Linked DNA regions of Homo sapiens: region 1 is linked to region 2. Evidence: fine-mapped expression QTL. A gene starts in region 2. The other region holds a variant in brackets. All regions are shown on one strand. Distances are from middle to middle.

Region 1 (2,529 bases), 170 kb before region 2:
GGAGTGAGGACTGAACACTGGGGTAGGGGTTGGGGGTGGGGGGTTGGGGGAGGCAGGGAAATCCTATTCACATCACTGTTGCACCAAGCCACTGCAAGAGAAACCCCCACCCGGCAAGCCCGCCCCATCCCAGACAGGAAGCAGAGTCCCACAGACCGCTCCTCCTCACCCTCTACCTCCCTGTGCTCATGCACTAGGCCCCGGGAAGCCTGTACATCTCAACAACTTTCGCCTTGAATGTCCTTAGAACCGCCTTCCCCTACTTCATCTGTTGACACAGCTTTTATACTCACCTGTGGAAGAGTCAGCTACTCACCCGCTATTAGAGTATGGAGGAAGGGGTTTTCATTGCATTGCATTTCTGAAACATTCCTAAGACCCTTTAGTTGACCTTCAAATATTCAAGCTATTCTGCAGCTCCAAGATGCAATTATAGAAACAGCTCCTTTTTTATTTTATGTCCTCTATATGCCAGGTGCTTCACCTGTTATTTCACTTAATCCTCATACCATATTTGCAAAGGATGTGTTATTATCTATGTGTGACAAATGAGGAAACTGAGGCTCAGGGGATAAAGGGACTTGCCCAAGTCCCACAGCTGGTGTGTGACTGCAGAGACTGTGCTCTTCCCAGTGTGCTGCAATACTTCTCAACCCTCCTCTAACCTGCTGTGTCACCCGCTTTCCCTCCCAGCCCCCACATCCTTACCATTTTCCCTCCCTGGGAATTCCTGCTTCTGCGAAAATGGTATCCTCTAGCTCACACTTTCCTAATGGCCCCATCTCCTGCAGAAGCCAGGTGAGCCCAGCACTGGACTGAAGTTCTTGCAGACACCCCACCTGTGCCCCTATCATCAGGGGAACTGCTCCACCTGAGAGGACCAACTCTTTAATTTTTAGTAAAACCTGGAGGTGATGGGCCGGGCGCAGTGGCTCACGCCTGTAATCCCAACACCTTAGGAGTCCGAGGTGGGTGGATCACGAGGTCAGGAGATCCAGCCCATCCTGGCCAACATGGTGAAACCCCATCTCTACTAAAAATACAAAAATTAGCCGGGCGTGGTGACACGTGCCTGTAGTCCCAGCTACTCGGGAGGCTGAGGCAGGAGAATCACTTGAACCTGGGAGGCGGAGGTTGCAGTGAGCTAAGATCACGCCACTGCACTCCAGCCTGCGGACAGACCAAGACTTCATCCCCCCC[A/C]AAAAAAAAAGATTGGAGGTGATTTACAGTGAAAGACACAAATAAAATACAACTGTTCAATGGAAATAGAAAATAAACACCATAAAAGAGAGAAGAGAGGTAATTTGTTAGCATCAAGAGTCAAGTTGCTATATGGTCAAAGGTTAAATTTATCTCTAAAAAATGGCAGGATTCAAAGTTGTACATACATGTGATTACTTCTGTTTTTTACACCCACATACAGTACAAAAGATTATTAAAAATATTCCCAAAAGGCAGGTGCAATGATGCACACTTATACCCCCAGCCACTCAGGAGGCTGATGCAAGAGGATCGCTTGAGCCCAGGAGTTGAAGTCCAGCCTAAGCAACATAGTGAAACCCCATCGCCAAAAATATAATAATAATTCTCTCAAAATACTAAACAGAGGTGGTTTTATTGATAAGATTTTGGCTGTTTGGTTTTCCACTATTCTCTATTGGCTAAAATTTGTTTAATGAGCATGAAATGTTTTTATTTTATTTTGCTTATTTTTATGATTGCAAAAAATGATATGAGTTTCTCCCTGCCAAGGCAAAAAAATATATATATACCTATATTTATATGTGTATGTCTAGATCTATATCTCTACATCTCCATCGCTGTCTCTGTCTAGAGATAGAGATATCGACAATGAGAGAGAGAGGGAGGTAAGAGATAGAGATGATGGAGATAGATGAGCTAGCGATAGAGACATATCCACAGAGGAAAACCTACCACTACTTTAAGAGAGAAATCTTTTTCCCAAGAATCAAATCCTTAAAGGAACAAACACTGTAACCGACTATATCCTCAATAATTGTTTTAAAACAAACGCAGCAGCATTTCATATGGCATTTTTTTCCTTCTTGGTATGAGTCAAGGACAAAACAAAGTCAAGGACATAACAAAAATGTGTGAGTAAAGGTTATTTTGAATGGTTGGGCAGAGTGGAGACAGGGCTGGGACTGAGCTAATGACATCCAGGTTTGCCGCTCTCCAAGCGTGTTGCACAATGCCAACGCAGAACTGAGAATCCCTAGGATGGACGGAAGAGCTTCAGCTAAGACTTACCTCCTTACCTGTTCCCTCTGCCTCCATTATGAACATACGGCACATGCGCGCGTGCACACACACACACACACACAAACTGCTGCTAGGATATTAATGTGCAGTTTGTTAGACGAGATTCCCCTTCCTTCTCGTCCTCTGATCTGGTGCTTTTCCTTCTCCCCCATCTTTTGTCTTTCCTGATCTAACAAGGCTGTGGATCATATGCTGATCCCATCACAGACCAGCCCTCCGTTAGGTTCAGTCCTCAGCTCTGACACA
Region 2 (3,015 bases):
AATTCTCCATTTCCATCCTCCCAGAACCCCTTTCTTCCCAACTCCCCCTTCTGTGTTCCTGTTTTCCTCCTCACTAGTTTTGGGATAACCCACACTACTGGGCCCCAGTGCCCTCTCCAAGAAATAACTATGTCTGGGATAGGGAAAACAGGGTCAGAGGTGACCTGCAGTAGGGGAATGAAAACCGTCACAAAGACATGGCCTTCCCTCTTCCACGCTGGAAAACCTCCGGCTCTTCTCAAAAATGGACCTCTCTTTGCCCAAGCCTCCGTCTCCCCCAGGTTCATCAGCCACAATCCCTCTTTCCACCTACCACACCCCTTTCCCGTTTCCCACTTCCCGTCTATTCCTAAAGCCCCCAACCCCAGGCTCCGGAACCCGTGTTCTGGTCCTTTGGAGCTTTTTCCTGGAGGCTTCATGCCCCACCTCGCTGCCATCTCTCCTATCCATTCTGCCTTCGCCCGGAACCCCACTCACAGCATCCCCCGTTTTCCTCCGCCAACCCCGGCCTCGATGTTCCTCCTCTTTTGAGTCTGCGGGTCCCGGATACCCTCTGGCCCCACAGGCCTCCTCCGGAGACCCTCCCTCCTTCCCCACCTTCCCGATCCTCCCGAAACCCTGGCCCCCGACTCTCCTCGGCGGGCCCCACCCCCTGAGCCCCCGGCCCTCAGGCCAGGCAGAGCCCGCAGTGGGGGGACGGGATTGGGAAAATAACAAATGGAGGCGGCGGCGGCAGGAGGGGGAACTGGGAGGGGTGGGGGTGGGGAGCCGCAGGCCGGAGCCCGGGCGGGACAGAACCCCGCGGGCCCGGGGCCCAGGCGGCCGCAGACCTTACCTGCTGGTAGCTCGGGACGGCTGGCTGGCTCCGAGCGGGATTCCGGGCTCCGGCGCCTCTGGGGGGCGGCGGCGGCAGCTCCCCCGCCCCCCTCTCCTCTTCTCGGCCTCAGTCGCCGCCGCGACGACGGCGGCGGCGGCCCCGACCCCCCCGGAGGGCGGCCCCCATCCCCCCTTTTCCCCGCCTGGCCCCAATCGCCCGCCGGCCCCCGGAGCAAACCCCGATCCCCGCTCTGCTCCCCACCTCCCCGGGCTCGCCGCCTCCCCCTGGCCGCCCGGAATGCCCCGGGCCGCGCCGCCCGCCCCCGCCGCGCCGCCCGGCCCCGCGGCCCGCCCGGCCCTCGGCGCGGTTCCGACCCGCCGCCGCCCGCGCCCGCCTAGCGCAGCCCGCACCCGCGCGATCCCGGGCCCCTCGGCCGCCTCGCCCGCGGCCCCCGCCCCTTCCCCGGCAGTCGGCTCCCTCTCCCCCCTCCTAGCCCCTCCCCGAAGCCGCGGTCCCTCCGAAATGGCCCGGCCCGAGGCCCCGACCCGGCGCGGGGCTGCGGACGGGCTGGGCGGTGCGTCCGGCGACTCGCACAGGAAAGCGGACGGCGAAGGGAGGGAGCCTGGGAGAGGGGGATGGGAGAAGGGAGGAAGAGGGAGAAGGAGGGAGCGCGGAGGAACGGAGGAGAGAGGGGCCAGGAGGGAGACGCGAGGGAGGGAGCGCGAGGCAAGCCGCGAGGGGGGAGAGAGGGGGAGCCGGAGAGGGGGAGGCGCAGCGCGAGTTGGCCGAGGCCGAGGCCGAGGGGGCCGGGGCGCGGGGAGGGCTAGCCGTGGCGGAATGTGGGGAGCCCGCGGGCCCGGCGCGGGAGAGGGCTAGGTAGGAGGGGCTGTGGGTGGTGAGGGCAGATGAGGGGAGGCTGAAGTTTGGGGGCGAGCGGGTCTGTGGCAGAGGTGAAGTGGGAGGAGTTTGGGGGATCCTGGGGTAGAGATTGGGATAATGGGATTGGATTGGAAAGATGGAGCTGCCTGGGGGCTTTGTGGGTGCCTGGTGAGAAGTGAGAGAAGCTTGGGGTGAGGGATCTGTGGCAGAGATGGAGCCAGACGGGTTTGGGGGCTATTATCAGAGAGAATGGGATGGAAGTTTGGGGTCATAAGGAGAGAGAAAAATTGAAAAGATGACATATATAGAAAGATGGGGCTTCTGGAAAAAGTAAAGCTTTTGGGGGTGATTAGTGTTGACAAAAGAGTCATAAATATAAGAATTGGGGGTGGGGGGATGAAGGAATGCTGGAGAGAGAGAAGTCCAGAGGAAACGTCAGTGAGGAGAGAGAGGAGGGAACGCGTGAGGAACCTTAAGAAGGGATGAACGAGGTGGGCCCAGGTGCCAATTCTAGGGAAAATAGGTTCTGGGTGAGAAAGGAGGGCTCTGGATGGGAAAGAAGGGTGGGAGACACCGGGCTGGCTGGATCCTGGGGGTGGGGGCTCCCAGTAGAGCCGAGGAGGGTTTACTTGGGCGGGCAGAATGGGGAAGAGGGGGATAAGAAGATTGGAAGGAAATGTAAGCTGAACAAGGCCTATGGCTGGCGGCAGTATGGAAGAGGAAAGATCATGGATGGGAAAAGAAAATGGAGATGGGGCCGGTGCGGGGGCTCACGCCTGTAATCTCAGCACTTTCGGAGGCTGAGTCGGGTGGGTCACTTGTCAGGAGTTCAAGACCAGCCTGGCCAACATGGCGAAACCCCGTCTCTACTAAAAATACAAAAATTAGCCGGGTGTGGTGGCGCATGCCTGTAATCCCAGCTACTCAGAGGCTGAGGCAGGAGAATCCTTGAACCTGGGAGGCAAAGGTTTCAGCAAGCAGAGATCGCGCCACTGCACTCCAGCCTGGGAGACAGAGCGAGACGCCGTCTCAAAAAAAAAAAGAAAAAATGGAGATGGGAAACGAGGGCAGTTAAAGGAAATGACAGATGTGGGAGCGGGGGGAGGTTGCTGGCAAGCTCATGGGTAGATAGGTAAGGGATACAGCTTGGAGGAGTGAGACACCATCCTCAGGCCTTCCATCTAGTGGCATCTCCATTTTCCTTCTCAAATCTGTTGAAAGTCATCACTAAAGATCCCCTGGGTCACAGGGAAGCAGTCGGGTGAAGACTGGGCTTAATGTGGACCCAAATCCCTGGGTATCCTTGTTGCTCAATCCCA

Evidence for each region. PIP is the estimated chance that this variant, and not a neighbour inherited with it, causes the effect. A credible set is the group of variants that fine-mapping cannot tell apart.
Region 1: its variant is the best candidate, but not a certain one, in a credible set for the expression of ATN1 in whole blood (TOPMed, PIP 0.85).

The regions. Positions count from the first base shown.
Region 1 is chr12:7,093,802-7,096,330 of GRCh38, reverse strand. C1RL (complement C1r subcomponent like) reads left to right here. Exons shown (of 6, transcript NM_016546.4): 6 at 1-1,777. Among named protein-coding and RNA genes, the nearest start is that of C1R, 2.6 kb to the right of the region's middle. The variant A/C (reference allele first, on the strand shown) is at 1,201.
Region 2 is chr12:6,926,205-6,929,219 of GRCh38, reverse strand. It overlaps ATN1 (atrophin 1), which reads right to left and starts at 1,261. Exons shown (of 10, transcript NM_001940.4): 1 at 836-1,261. It overlaps LOC124902868 (a long non-coding RNA gene), which reads left to right and starts at 1,524. Exons shown (of 2, transcript XR_007063194.1): 1 at 1,524-1,693. RefSeq lists silencers at 1,263-1,422, 1,603-1,652 and an enhancer at 2,677-3,015.